Homo sapiens: one gene and its partner. The protein of the gene in region 1 interacts with the protein of each later gene in a pairwise test. Each region holds a gene or a part of one and is shown on either strand. Other genes may lie near its edges. The genes, in order: MTR and MMACHC.

The links.
Region 2: the proteins of MTR (region 1) and MMACHC interact in binary tests that used the Homo sapiens proteins (3 or more experiments, as listed by UniProt).

What each region holds. Positions count from the first base shown.
Region 1 is NC_000001.11:236,896,221-236,903,492, reverse strand, and holds part of MTR (methionine synthase), read right to left. Parts: intron 6,488-7,272; coding exon 6,375-6,487; intron 5,936-6,374; coding exon 5,849-5,935; 3' UTR 1-5,848. UniProt on the Homo sapiens protein: Catalyzes the transfer of a methyl group from methylcob(III)alamin (MeCbl) to homocysteine, yielding enzyme-bound cob(I)alamin and methionine in the cytosol. MeCbl is an active form of cobalamin (vitamin B12) used as a cofactor for methionine biosynthesis.
Region 2 is NC_000001.11:45,495,595-45,503,318, reverse strand, and holds the start of MMACHC (cyanocobalamin reductase / alkylcobalamin dealkylase), read right to left. Parts: upstream 3,020-7,724; 5' UTR 2,987-3,019; coding exon 2,906-2,986; intron 1-2,905. Other genes in the region: transmembrane protein CCDC163, read left to right, coding at 3,710-3,787, 3,876-3,974, 5,936-6,020. UniProt on the Homo sapiens protein: Cobalamin (vitamin B12) cytosolic chaperone that catalyzes the reductive decyanation of cyanocob(III)alamin (cyanocobalamin, CNCbl) to yield cob(II)alamin and cyanide, using FAD or FMN as cofactors and NADPH as cosubstrate.

The DNA of each region.
Region 1 (7,272 bases):
AGCAAGGGATGAGGCAAAAGGCATCTTTGAAAATTACATTTGAAGAATGCAGTGTAAATGGAATTAGATATTCCAAGTGTTAAAAAAACATGGGACTGGCTGAGTTTAGGGGTTACTTCATTTAAATCCTCACTTTTCACTCAGACTAGTCAAAATAGCACCCATTTCAGGCTAGACTTGTTGCCAAGCTAATCTTTTTAAAAGTACAATAACATACACTTGTAAAAATTTGAAACAGTGCAGAAAGAACGAGAAATAGCCAAACCATGAGTTCCCTCACCTCTGATCCCCTAATCCCATTCCGTGGAGGTAACCACTTAAAAATTTCTGTGTATCCTCTTAGACTTTTTATTTTTTATTTTTTAAGAGATGAGGTCTCAGCACAGGCTGGAGTGCAGCTGTGCAATCATAGCTCACTGCAGCCTCAAACTCCTGGCCTCAACCGATCCTCCCACCTCAGCCTCCTGAATAGCTGGGTTTACAGGCATGTGACACTGTGCCCAGCTCTTCTTGACGTTTTAATGCATATACTGGTGTATATTTCCTTATACACACACCGAATCAGAATATACTTTCAGTTCTACAATTTGACAATACACATAGCTGATTTATAGCAAGTATGCCATGAACTGAGGGTTTTGTTTTGTTTTGTTTTTGCAGGGCTGCCAATATGCTGTCTTCACGGGACGGTAAAGAAAGTATCACTTGGGCCGCATCTAATATGAAATACTGAAGGTGGGTGTAGAGAGGGTGCTAGGGCTTTGATACAGCGCTTTCTTTCTGAGAGAGAGAAAACCATCATGCTCCCCCCGCCCCGAACTCATTTAACAAGGCTTGATGGAGTGAACAATTTCATGGCAGGCACTGAGCTAGGCTCTGGGTATCCTGAGCTCAGGAAGAGGCAGGGCCCCTGCCCTCATGAGGCTTTACAGTCTGCTCTCCATCCAACTCCTGTCCCTAGAGGATCTGCTCAATTCAAGACAACCTTTACTGAGCACCTATCATAAAGCAAGCACTATTTTAGACGCCATATAAAGATGAGTAAGGTTCCAAACCTGCCCTTAGGGAATGTTAAGTCTAACAGAGAACTAGATGAAGTTTCAGCAAGGGCTGTATGAAATGTGCATGGCGGTGTTACAGAGGCAAGAAGAGGGGTCACTTCACTTAGCTTTGGGGTGGTGGGAGGGAGGGGTTGGGAAGCTTTCCTGACTTGGGTGGAACCGGGGTGGGGTTATTCCAGACAGAGGGGCCAATGTGAGCAGGTACCTCCTTCAGGGTACAGCAGCAGTCTAGGGCTTCCAAGACATGAGGCAGGGTCAGACATGGAAGGCTTTGCATGCCTCTAAGGGGCTGGGATATATCCTAGGTCACGGGGAGATGGTTATTCAGGCAGCAGGAGGATTGAGGCGGGGGTGTAAAGAATCAGAGAGCCCACTCTTCCAGCTCTAGGAGGTGGGAACCAACCCGGCAGCCTGTGTTGCAGATGAATCCAGAGGAGAAATGATGAGAACCTTAACCAGGGCAGGCGTAGAGATGAACTTAAGACCTATCTAGCGCGTAAAATCGCCAGGGCTTGAGAACCAACTGGATGTGAAGGTTGAGAAAAAGAAAAGTGTTATGGTCTGATGTATCCCCCAAATCATGTTGAAATGGAATCCCCAGAATGATGGTGTTTGGAGATGGCATCTTTGGGAGGTAATTAGGTCATGAAGGTGGAGCCCTCATGAATGGGATTAGTGCCTTTTTAAGAGGAGGCCAGAGAGCAAGCTTACCCTCCACCCACTGTGAGAACATGAGAAGCTGGCCGCTGCATCCCAGAAGAGGGCCCTCACCAGAACTCGGCCATGATGGCACCATGATCTTGGACTTCCAGACTCCTGAACTGTAAGAAATAAACATCTGTTCTCTATAAGCTAACCAGTTTGTGGTATTTTGTTACAGGAGCAGGAGCTAAGACTGGAGGGGTCAGGGGCAACTCCCAGGTTGATGGTGTTACTGACTGGCAGAAGAAATTCAGTCTCCCTGGAAGTTGGGTTAAAATAATTGTTTTTAAAGACTTCTGCACTATCTGCAACCCTCTGTACTTGTGCTTTACCCTCAGCATATAATCCTTTTTCTGTCTGAAACACTCTCAATCCTACCTTTCCCTCCAATCTTCTTTAAATGAGTCAACAAGTCTTCCACACCTCCCATTGTCTTCAACCTAGCAAAGCCAGCTGTGTGCCAACAGTCCCCACAATCCCCTGACGCTGCTCTTGAGGGGCTCACTGTGAGAAGGGCCCTCAGCAATCCCATTCCCAGGCCTCTTTGCAGCATTGGGTTCTGCTGGCATGCTTCGAAACGCTCTTCATTGCTTTCTCGGCATTGCACTCTCCCTCCTGGCTTCCTCCAACCCACAGCTGCTCCCCTGCTGGCTCCCCCTCCTCCTCCTCCAGATTCTCTTCTCCTCATATGCTCCATAGATGATCCCATCGCACTGCAGCCTGACCTCCATCTCCACGTTCAAGTCTCTCAATTCTAACTCCAGACATTCTTTTTAAATTCCAAAGTCTAGTATCCAACTGCCTATATTCAGTCTAGTCACATCGAATCTTTCCAAAACTCATCATTTCTCCCATCCCCTGGCCTCTGTCTTAGCAAATGGTCCAGCCATCCACTCATTCCCCAAAGCCTGGTATCTGGGCACTGCTGGCAGCAGCAAGGATGCACCACTCTCCTGCCCCTCACCTTTCTAGCTGCTGTTTACCCTAAGATGTTCTTCCTTTCCTTAAAAACTGTATTTGACATATACAAACATTACCTACAAAATCACCATACCAGATTTTAGGTTATCATTCCACTTTGCCTTTATTTTTTATAATATATTTAAGTAGAACATATTTAATATGTAAAAAACTGTTATCTATTAGTTATAAAGTATAATGTATTAATAGCATATAGTAAACACTTGTAAGCCTACCAGGAGGAACCAGAACAGCTGCATAACTTGGCATCTACCTATGTGCTCCTGTCCCTTCCACTTCCTCCTTCTGTGGGTAATTACTATGCTCAATTTTGGTTTATCAGTTACCTTCTTTTTTTTTAATAGCATAGTTTTATTGTATACGTATGCTTAGACTACATATTCTTTGGTTTTGCTTGTTTTTGGGCTCAATAAAAATAGTACGCCCCATGTGGTCTCTTCAAACTTGCTTTTTTCCTTAATATTTTCTGAGATTCATTCTTATTGTGAGGTATAGCTGTAGTTCACTCATTTCCACTACTGAATAATATCCCGTAGAATGAATATATATATCTAATTATTCACCTATTTTCCTGTAGACAGACATACATTTCACTTTTTCCAGTTATTAACTATTATAAATATGTAACTATGAACATTCTTACACATTCCTCCTAGTGGCCACATGCAAGAGTTTGCTGGACATACAGGTGGGAGTTGGAAGCAAGATCATAACGTCTGCAAATGTTCAAGTCTGTAAGGGATAATTGTTTTTTAAAGCAGTGGTGCCTGTTTACACATCCACAATGTTGTACAAGTCCCTACAGATCTAACAACTGGTACTGTCAGACCCAACCTTTGCAAATCTTATGGATATAAAATGGAATCTCATTGTGGTCCTAATTCATATTTCCCTGACCAATGCTACAGAACATCTATTTATTTAAAAGCCCTATTTCCTCTTGTGTAGTCTTCACTATTTTTCTATTTTTTTAAATAGGAATTCTCTATATTTGTGATTATGAATCCTTCATCAGTTATTTGTATTATAAATGTCTTCTCAAGTTGTGGATCATCTTCTCACTTCAAGTGTTTGCTTAATATAAGCCTTGAGTTTTAACAGAATTGACTTAACCATCTTGTCCTTTATGATTACTACTTTATGTCTCAAGAGATTCTTTCCTGCCCTAAGGCTTTTTTCATCCAAACACTGACAATTTTTGCTTTTTGTATTAAAGCCCTTAACATATTTGGAACTTATCACCAGGTAAGGTGAGAGAAAGTAAAATTTCTTTTTTTCCCACATGAATAGCCATTGTTCTGGGATTACTTAGGGAGTGGTCCTTCCTGTCCCCACTGACTTGCCATGTCACCAGGTCATTTTGCAAAGGTCAACATATGCACGGGTGAGTTTCTAGGCCCTTATTTTGTTCCCCTGCTCAGAATGCCTACCTCTGCACCATGACACTGTCTTGACAATAAAACTTGGTATCACATAGGGTGCGTGTCCCCAACCTCTCCTTCATATTTAGAAGCATTTGGTAATTTTAAGTCCTTTGCTACTCCATATAAACACCTGCTTGTTTCATTCAATAAAATCTGTTGGAATTTCCATTGAAAATGGTATTAAATCCATAGATCAATTTTAGGAGACCTGATACCTTTATAATCTTGAATATTCCTATTCATGAACAAAGATGGTTCTTCATTTGTTCCTCCCTTGCTTCTTCGTCTTCATCCTTCGAATCAAACCAGGACTCCAATGTTACCTTCTCCTGACTATTGCCACCACCATCTTGAAGTAGGATGAGTGTATATTTTGCATGCAAATTTTTGAAATAACTGCAATCATCCAAGAAAAAGATGACATGGTTGAGTTTGAGGCTTGTTGCTTGAGTGGTGGCACCATTCTTCATTACTGAATATATTGAGAATTGAGGGGAATAAAATGGTAAGAAATGAGTGACTTTATGCTGCCCACTTGTCCAACTCCGCACGGGATATCAGAGCCCAGCTGAGAACCTGCTCAATCCTGGAAACAATTAAAAGATGTTAACCGGCCAGGCTCGGTGGCTCACGCCTGTAATCCCAGCATTTTGGGAGGCTGAGGTGGGCAGATCACGAGGTCGGGAGATCAAGACCATCCTGGCTAACACAGTGAAATCCTGTCTCTACTTTTTTGTATTTTGTAAAAACACAAAAAATTAGCCGGGTGTGGTGGCGGGCACCTGTAGTCCCAGCTACTCTGGAGGCTGAGGCAGGAGAATGGCATGAACCCAGGAGGCGGAGCTTGCTATGAGCCGAGATTGCGCCCCTGCACTCCAGCCTGGGCGACAGAGCCAGACTCTGTCTCAAAAAAAAAAAAACCAAAACAAAACAAAACAAAAAAAATGTTAACCACCCTTAACAGTAACTTTCTCTCCTCATTTCCTTTTTGTTTCCTCAGGGGTACGGAAATATGAAATTATGGGAGGACGAAAATGCCCAGAAAGCATGGCTGCTTGACCACACTGGGGCAAATGGCTTCAGTGTTTCTGACAAGCAAGCAGTGAGCGCATGCCTTTTGCCAAAGGGAGTTCTGCAGCCATTTAGTCCAGCCTTTAGAAAACGAGGTCTTCCGAAGAGAACAGAGCTACACCTTCCCCGTCAGAATCCACTGTTATAACCACTTAGATTAAAATGCCCCATTTCTCACAGTATCATTTTGTCACAGGGTCACACTTCTCTATTCAACTCAGTTTCAGGCTTTTCTTCTAAGAGGAAAAAAAGACGACTAAGTGGCCTCCTAGATTCCACTGTAAAAACAGAAAAAAGCAGGTTGACTTGCTTTGAAATCAAACGACCTCTGTCTTCAGTCTGTCCCCATCTCAGAGGGACCAGGGAAACCACAGGAACCCTGCTCACTGCTCTTCACGCAAGGTCCCAAAAAAACAGCGCCTGTTTTCCAGGCACTGCAGGAAGACCCTGCTCCTCTACAAGGTTCCACTAAATAGTCTTCGAAAACCAGAAGCAGGTAAGTGTCAGCCAGATGCACACAGGTTTTTTGTTGTTGTTATTTTTAAGGCACCCTAGGTTGTATTTCCTTGAGGATCATCAAGAATAAAAAAGGCAAAAAAAAAAAAAAAGTTAGTCTGTATCATATCCCAAAATGGGTCCAAGCCATTTCTCAACCTCAGCCACAGATATGTTCTTCCTCAATGCATAATCCTCAACCTGCAAAAGATGAGAAGCATTTTATTAAACCAACATGATAAGACTTTTGGAATAGAAGTTTCCACAAGATTTGCCAAGAAACATTAAGTACCTTGCATTTCTTGTCTTAATAGCAATCTACAGAGTTAAATGGAGATAGATATTTATCTACCAAGTTGCCTTTTTCTCTGGGCAGAAAAACATGTAGTAAACATCTGATGCTTAGAAGCTGTATGTGTGTGTGTGTGTGTGTGTGTGTGTGTGTGTGCGTGTGTGTGGCTTGCATGTAGAAGTGAGGGCTAGAATAGAGGTATTCTATTGAAATCAAATTAAGACATTAACTGGAGTAAATTTCTTCATCCTTTCCCCTCACTTTATTCTCATTCACATTTAAAATGAGAGAGGTTCTAGAATTTCATTTGAACTAGGCAAGCCACATATAATGCAACAGCTAGCTTACCTGATCCTTGGAAATCTTCCCCACAGCAAAATATTTGGACTTCAAATTGGAGAAGTAGAGGCCTGAGACTGCTGAAGCAGGTGCCATTGCTAATGATTCTGTTAACCTAATGCCTAGAGGGAGCAACACAGGGAAAATGCTTATGGACTCAGTGTCTAGCACAGGGCCTGCAGCTAGCAGGCACTCAATGAACTCTTGTTGAACAAGTGAACCAAAGCGAGCTCATGCCTTCTAGGTAGACACATGACACAGCATGAAAGCTGTGATCAGAGAAGTCTAGCAAATTCCTGCCAGGTGAAGAAACAAATTCGGGACATGCAGATCTCCTCTAACCCAGGGGGACAGGCCTGGGAAAGACTCTACACTCCCACCTCCAGCCATCCCAGATCAGTTACAGGTGCCCTAATTTGCTCCTAAGCCTAGACCTTCTCAGGCAGGAGCTCTACCCCTGGAGATGAGAACAACAACTGAACAGCCTCCACCGGCTCTGTGCGGCCACTGATACTAGGGACGACTGAGAGCTCCAGTGAAGAAGGAACCCACAACATTGTGAGAAAGAAGAGACAGTTTTCCTTGGGATCTGAGAGCTCAAACAGACCCTCAAGGATATCTATTCGAAGCCACTCATTCTATGAACAAGGAAACAGAGCAACATGAAGGGTGAGTGCTTTGCCAGAGGTCGCCCAGCTAGCTTATGGCAGAAACAGGACTCAAACCCAGATCTCATGACTCCTAGAGTTAGTGTTGTTCCTGCTGAAGCAGATTCAGCACAGCTCATGGTTTCTCACTTAAATCTGGATGCCTTTATCAGCTTTGATGGCATGCTTTTTATTAATTCCGCTGAAAACTGTGAGCTTAGCCTGGGCCATCTCAACTACATGAACTCTGCAGTAATGAC
Region 2 (7,724 bases), about 190 Mb from region 1:
TCAAGCGATTCTCCTGCTTCAGCCTCCCGAGTAGCCGGGATTACAGGTGCACACCACCACGCCCACCTAATTTTGTATTTTTAGTAGAGACGGGATTTCACCATGTTAGCCAGGCTGGTCTTGAACCCCTGACCTCCAGTAATTTACCCACCTTGGCCTCCCAAAGTGCTGGGATATAGGTGAGAACCACCACGCCTGGCTGCAGAAAGTTCTAATAGGCAGAACCACTAAGAACAATAGAAATGACTGTACTATAGCTAGTGCAATGACAGGGTCAGATAAGGGTCCTCTGAAATTAGAAAAGGCTTCCTTGTGGCCGGGCATGGTGGCTCATGCCTGTAATTCCAGCACTTTGGGAGGCCAACGCAGGCAGATCACCTGAGGTCGGGAGTTCAAGACCAGCCTGACCAACATGGAGAAACTGTCTCTACTAAAAAAAATACAAAATTAGCCGGGTATGTTGGCACATGCCTGTAATCCTACCTACTCTGGAGGCTGAGGCAGGAGAATCACTTGAACCCGGGAGGCAGAGGTTGTGGTGAGCTGAGATCGCACCATTGCACTCCAGCCTGGGCAACAAGAGCGAAACTCCATCTCAAAAAAAAAAAAAAAGAAAAGAAAAGGCTTCCTTGGATGCTAAGTCTTGAAGGCTAGAAAGTCAACTGGTCAACTGTCAGGTTGATGTAGGGAGGAGAATCTGGTGTGCATTTATTTATTATTTATATTTCACCAAAAAACACATAAACTCACTGGTGTGTATTTTAAAAAGAGGTCACAGACTGAGTGCGGTGACTCATGCCTGTAATCCCAGTGCTTTGGGTGGCTGGCCGAAGCAGGAGGATCACTTGAGGCCAGGAGTTCAAGACCAGCCAGGGCAACAAAGTGAGACCCTGAGTGTTGGTGCATGCCTGGAGTCAGCTACTTGGGAGACTAAAGTGGGAGGATCACTTGAGCCCAGGAGTTTGAGGCTGCAGTGAGCTATGATTGCACCACTGCACTCCGGCCGGGAGGACAGAGTGAGACTTTGTCTCTAAATAAATAAAGAATAAAATAAACAAGTCACAGCATAAGCAAACACACTGGCAGAAAATTCCTGGGTATATTTGAGAATTGTCTAGTTTGGTGGAAGTGAAGGGTCTGTAGAGGGAATCAGAGGGAGAGAAGGCTGGAGAGATCAATAGGAGTGAGATTTTGATTGGCTTTGAATACCAATTTAAGGAATATGGATTTAATTTGGTGACAGTGAAGAGCCACTGAAGATTTAAGGAGTAAACTAGCATGATCATTTTTAGATCACACTGGCTGCAGTGTGGAGGAGGGACTGGAGGTAAAATTACAGCAAGGAGGTTATTACAGTAATCCAAGTGAGAAATGGTGGCCTGGACCACAGCATAGATGGGTGGAATACAAGGGAATGGATTTGGGAGATTCAGTAGACAGTCTTATAGGTCTTGGTGGCTGATTGGATGTGGGGGTAGGGAGGTGAGAGGTAGGAGCCTAGGGTGACTGGCAGGGCTGCAGTTGGCTTTGTTCAGTACAAAAGCTCCTAATACCCAGGTCTACTCAACTTGCCAGATAGGCATTCTCACTCTCCCACACACCTGCCATCCACTGAAACGGTGTCTCAAAGAGTTAAAGGTCGATCTGCAACAAATAGCTTTTGTTTTCTCAAAAACCCAGTGTCATAATATTAGCTTCCAGCACATCAGGCATCAAGCCCTTTTACTTGGTAACACCACACCACTATCTCCACACCTTTACTCAAGCTTTTTCTGATATTTGGGATGTACATAACCCTCCTTCCTTCCAATCTATCTTTTCATATATAGCTCAATTCCATTTTTTCTGGCAAGACCAGTCTCAAGCTAGACCCAACCTACTTCTCCCTCTATATCCTCTCCCAGGACTGCTGTGAGCCACTCAGCAGAAGGAATGGGAAGTGGGTAGTCTCTTAAGCATCAGGCAAAGGGCTCAAGCTGAGCTGATTTAGCTTTGTAACTTAACTGCTCAGTGCACAGGGCACTGATGTGGGGAAATGTAACCGTGTAAATGGGGGTCGGGGTGCGGTGCTGAGACTGCTGTGCCAGGCAAGTGTACAAAGTTTCATTACCCAGCCCAGCACTGATGACTGGAAATATCATGAATTATCCTTCTGTTGGTAGAGGGAACAAACCAGCCAATTGTTTGCCTGTTCATCACCAGGAATGCCCTTCCTTCCTCAGCTGACCTAAATGATAGCTATGCAAACCTTCTAGGCTTTGCCCTCTCCTAAATCCTTTAGGAAGTTCCAAGGTGACTTTGCCTCACAGGTCCCTTTCTTCTTGTAAATTATATAGGTGACAATCTGAGCCACACACGCTACAGGTCATATGGTGTCTCCCGTTAACGAATCCGGCATTATATGGTGGCAAAAGGTTAAACATGCGACAACTTTTTTTTTTTTTTTTTTTTTTGACACGGAGTTTCGCTCTTTGTTGCTCAGGCTGGACTGCAATGGCGCAATCTCGGCTCACTGCAACCTCCGTCTCATGGGTTCAAGCAATTGTCCTGCCTCAGCCTCCCGAGTAGCTGGGATTACAGGCATGCACCACCACGCCCGGCTAATTTTATATTTTTAGTAGAGATGGGGTTTCACCATGTTGGCCAGGCTGGTCTCGAACTCCTCACCTCAGGTGATCCGCCCGCCTCGGCCTCCCAAAGTGCTGGGATTACAGGCGTGAGCCACCATGCCCGGCCTCGACCACTACCTTTTTAACCCAAGCCCCCACTGAAACTCTGTCCCTGTTGTCACATGGACACTGGGCTGCAGGAACCCAGGAGGATCAGAGGCTCCCGAGGCCTCACGCCAGTTGCAACGAAGCCAATCATATATTTCGCCCTAGAACAGCAGGAGGGATAAACTAACCTGGAAGGGGTAAACCTCGAAGCCAAAAGGACATAGCGTGTCCTCGATCTTCTGCTTCAGCTCTGCGACTTTCGGCTCCATAGCGCACGTTACACGCTGAGCTTGCTGGGGAATGAAGTCTCAAGGACAATTGGGCCGTTACGTTTTGAGTCAGCTTCGACTCCATTTCCCAGGTAGGAAATGGGTCCAGTAGCGGGACCATATTGCCTATGCGCGATGCATCTTGGGATGCGTAGTTCGTTTCCTCCTTGGAGACAGCCACACGAAATCAGGAAGACTCAGTTTCCCGGCAAGCTACACGGTGGGGGTGTGCATGTACGTGTCTCTTCTAGAGAAAGGTAGTTCCACCGCCTCCATCGCCGGTTGTGTTCGCAAGAGGCGACCTCAGTTTCCCAGGTGGCGCTGCGGCAGCCAGTCCAAAGTCGGACTTTCAAAACCAACCCGAAGTTTTGAACCCGGCGGCGGCAGTTGTCACTGGCACAGGTTTGGCGTGGTGGCGCCAGTGTACTACTTCTGGGGAGGTCTCAACCAGGTTCTGGCACCTTCAATCCCCACCTGATATCTGCGTATCATCACGGTATCCCGCTTTTCCCCCAGTTCCCCAAGAGCGTCCTTCCTTTCCCTAGTCACAGGATCGCAGTTTTGGTCTGATAGTGCATCCACCTACCCCAGTGTTGCATCCCCACTTCCCTCTTTCCATCTAACGTGGTGGCCTTTCCTGGGGATACCTTGGGTATCCCCCGCTAGGAGAGCAAGCACAAGACACCAGGGAGCCAGACCCCTGCCGCTCCCCTGCCACAGGATATGAATACGAGCCTCAGCTGGTTTGAGCAGCTGGATGTGCTTCTCAACGCTACTGATGGAAATGTGGTCCGGAATAAGGTGAGGGGTTGGTGGAGGTCCCCAGTTTGCGTGGGGAGGCTAAGGGACTCTCAGAGTTCATTGGCCTGTGCATCTGTTTCTTTTGTAGCAGTGGCTGTATCCTCTTGGGGTCTCCACAGAGCTCATTGGCCTGTGCATCTGTTTCTTCTGTAGCAGTGGCTGTATCTTCTTGGGGTCTCCACCGCAGGTAAGTAATGTCTCTTTCTACTTCCAAGCCCTTTCTCTTTCTGTGCCTTCCTCCAGTGCCCGTATCATCCATTATTCCTTCCAAATTCCAACTCTGTCCTTTCCTGAACTCTGTTTCCCCACACAGACCCTGCACTTAACCCTTCCTTATTTCCTCAGCCGGGGACCTGGCTGGGACCTGGATTTCCTCTCATCACTTGCCTCTGCAGTCAGGAGTCCAAGCTCAACAGCCTTGGGCTTTAGAGACTCCCATAGTTCCACAAAGGCTGAGCTGCCCTGAGTCCTAGAGCCCATCCTCTCTCTGGGGTGAGGTTGCTATTCTCTGATCCTAATTTCAATGTCAGGCTCAGGTGAGGCTTGGAATCCTTGGTGTGTATATGTGATGTTTGTGTAAGATGAGGATACTAGGGGTCGGGAAAAGCTGTTATACAGTAGTTCATGTGCTTTTTTCTGCCTGGGGAGGTGACAGGCACTAAGGCAGGCAGTGCAGGGCCTGCTAGAAGAGCGAGAGCAGCAGAAGTACCAGATCAGTGTCCTGGAAGGTATCTGGCCAGTTATTTTCTTCATATACACAGCTTCATATGTATGCACACAATTTTGCCACACACCTGTTGTGTGTGCACATGTGTCTTGTTTTGCAAGTAGAGTATCTAGGGTCTTGTGAAACTCTTAGAGAGGATGATCCCTAACTTGTCCCACTACAGCATCACTAAGGTTGCTGCAGGGGGCCCCAAAGGGGAGTGCTTTTCTCCTGGAGCAATGCCTGGAGGAGCTGAGAAAGGAACTGCAGGGCCTTCAGAGCCAGGTGTGGGAGCAAACCCAAGCCCAAGCCCAAGCCCAGATGCAAACAGGACCAGGAGAATGCAGTACTACCAATGGCCTTCCTCAGGAGCTGCAGACTGAGTAAGGGATAGTCAAGACCTTGCCTTCTTTTTTTTTTTTTTTTTTTTTGGGTTTGTTTTTCTTTTATTGATCATTCTTGGGTGTTTCTCACAGAGGGGGATTTGGCAGGGTCATAGGACAATAGTGGAGGGAAGGTCAGCAGATAAACAAGTGAACAAAGGTCTCTGGTTTTCCTAGGCAGAGGACCCTGCGGCCTTCGGCAGTGTTTGTGTCCCTGGGTACTTGAGATTAGGGAGTGGTGATGACTCTTAATGAGCATACTGCCTTCAAGCATCTGTTTAACAAAGCACATCTTGCACCGCCCTTAATCCATTTAACTCTGAGTGGACACAGCACATGTTTCAGAGAGCACAGGGTTGGGGGTAAGGTCACAGATCAACAGGATCCCAAGGCAGAAGAATTTTTCTTAGTACAGAACAAAATGAAAAGTCTCCCATGTCTACTTCTTTCTACACAGACACGGCAACCATCCGATTTCTCAATCTTTTCCCCACCTTTCCCCCCTTTCTATTCCACAAAGCCGCCATTGTCATCCTGGCCCGTTCTCAATGAGCTGTTGGGCACACCTCCCAGACGGGGTGGTGGCCGGGCAGAGGGGCTCCTCACTTCCCAGTAGGGGTGGCCGGGCAGAGGCACCCCTCACCTCCCGGATGGGGTGGCTGGCCGGGCGGGGGGCTGACACCCCCACCTCCCTCCCAGACGGGGCGGCTGGCCTGGCGGGGGGCTGACCCCCTCCACCTCCCTCCCGGACGGGGTGGCTGCCGGGCGGAGACGCTCCTCACTTCCCAGACGGGGTGGCGGCCGGGCAGAGGCTGCAGTCTCGGCACTTTGGGAGGCCAAGGCAGGCGGCTGGGAGGTGGAGGTTGTAGCGAGCCGAGATCACGCCACTGCACTCCAGCCTGGGCGCCATTGAGCACTGAGTGCGGCCTTGCCTTCTTGAGGCCTTTGAACTTTTGGCATTTGTAGTGGGACAAGTTGGGGATCATCCTCTCTAAGAGTTTCACAAGACCCTAGATACTCTACTTGCCTTCTTACTCTGGATTTGTTGATTGACTTTAGAATAGCACTGCTGTCACTCCTGCAGTGCTGTGGGAGGAGTCAGAGATTATGCAGAAGGAATTGAAGTTGCTGCAGTACCAGTTGAGTAAGTAAAAGGTGGTTGGGGGCGAATATGCGTTTCCTTGTCCCCTTTTCTGGAAAGTCATCTTCTTCTTTTATTTATTTTTATTTATTTTTATTCTTTTTGAGATGGAGTCTTGCTCTGTTGCCCAGCCTCGCTCTGTTGCCTGTTGCCAAGGCTGTGTTGCAATGGCGCAATCTTGGCTCACTGCAACCTCTGCCTCCCGAGTCCAAGCGATTCTCCTGCCTCAGCCTCCTGAGTAGCTGGGATTACAGGTGCCCGCCACCATGCCCAGCCACTTTTTTTCATATTTTTAGTATTTTTAGTAGAAATGGGGTTTCACCATGTTGGCCGAGCTGGTCTCGAACTCCTGACCTCAGATGATCCGCCTGCCTTGGCCTCCCAAAGTGCTGGGATTACAGGTGTGAGCCACTGCGCCTGGCCTGGAAAGTCTTCTTGCTCTCCCATTAAGTGGCCATGGCTCCAACTGCCTGAGCTACTGAGAAGTGTGGCCAAGTATTTTGTTGCACTCTTTGTCTCTCATGGTGTGAGTTTAATCTCTTCAGTCAGCTTGGAAGCGTCCCAATGGCTGAGCCAGAATGTTTCTGTCTCAGTTTTTGGCAGCAGGCTGGTCACAGGCAGGGAGGGAGAAGGAAAGAAGTTGGGGAACAGCCCCCTTACATTCTCTCTCATCTGCAGGCCAGCACCAGGAGCTGCTGCTGAAACAGCTGGCTGAGGGACGACAGGCTCAGGTTGGCAGTTGGAAGGTAGGACTAGGTTCAGACTTGTCTCTGCATATTTCTCTATGGAGGACCTTTCCTTTCTCTGTCTATCCTGTTCTGCAGGGAGGCCAGGATACCCTCTCCTGCCCCTGTCTTCATTCCTCTCTTCCCTGTGCTGACTCTCTCTCTCTCCAGAGCTCTTCTTTCTAACCTTTCTGCTCCCGGCCATGAGAAACTATCCTTGCCGACATGAGGGTTCCAAGTGTGCTGAAGAGGACAGTCATGGGGAGGGAGAGAGGGAGAGGTTTGGTTCCACCTGAGCCCATGATCTGGCAGATGTTAGAGCAGTTGCAAAGTGGCCAGGAAGGCAAGGGTCATACCCTGGAGGCTACCAGGACAGAGGACCAAGATGCCTGGAGGGAGCACAACCTCCTTAGGTCAGGGGGTATGGGTGCTGTGCCATTGGAGGGAAATTGTCTCACAGGTCGGGCACTGGGGACCAAAGTTCAGCTATCCTAGATTTGACTTGGGCTTTTGGGGTAGTATGAGTATCTGGGTTGTATCCCATAAAGGCATTCTTTACCTGATAGAGAGTCAGTGAGGTACCTTTGTATGTTTGGATGTTACAGAGGGAGGAGAGATTGGCAGGGCGCGGTGGCTCACGCCTATAATCCCAGCACTTTGGGAGGCCGAGGTGGGCGGATCACCTGAGGTCAGGAGTTCAAGACCAGCCTGGCTAACATGGTGAAACCCCATCTCTACAAAAATTAGCCGGGCATGATGGCGGGTGCCTGTAATCCCAGCTACTCGAGAGGCTGAGGTGGGAGAATCACTTGAACCCAGGAGGTGGAGGTTGCAGTAAACTGAGATCATGCCGTTGCACTCCAGCTTGGGTGACAGAGTGAGACTCCATCTCAAAAAAAAAAAAAAAAAAAAAAAAAAAAAGAGGGAGGAGACCAGAGTCCTAGCCTGAGGAAGGAGGACAGTTCTGTGTTGGAAGGGCCCC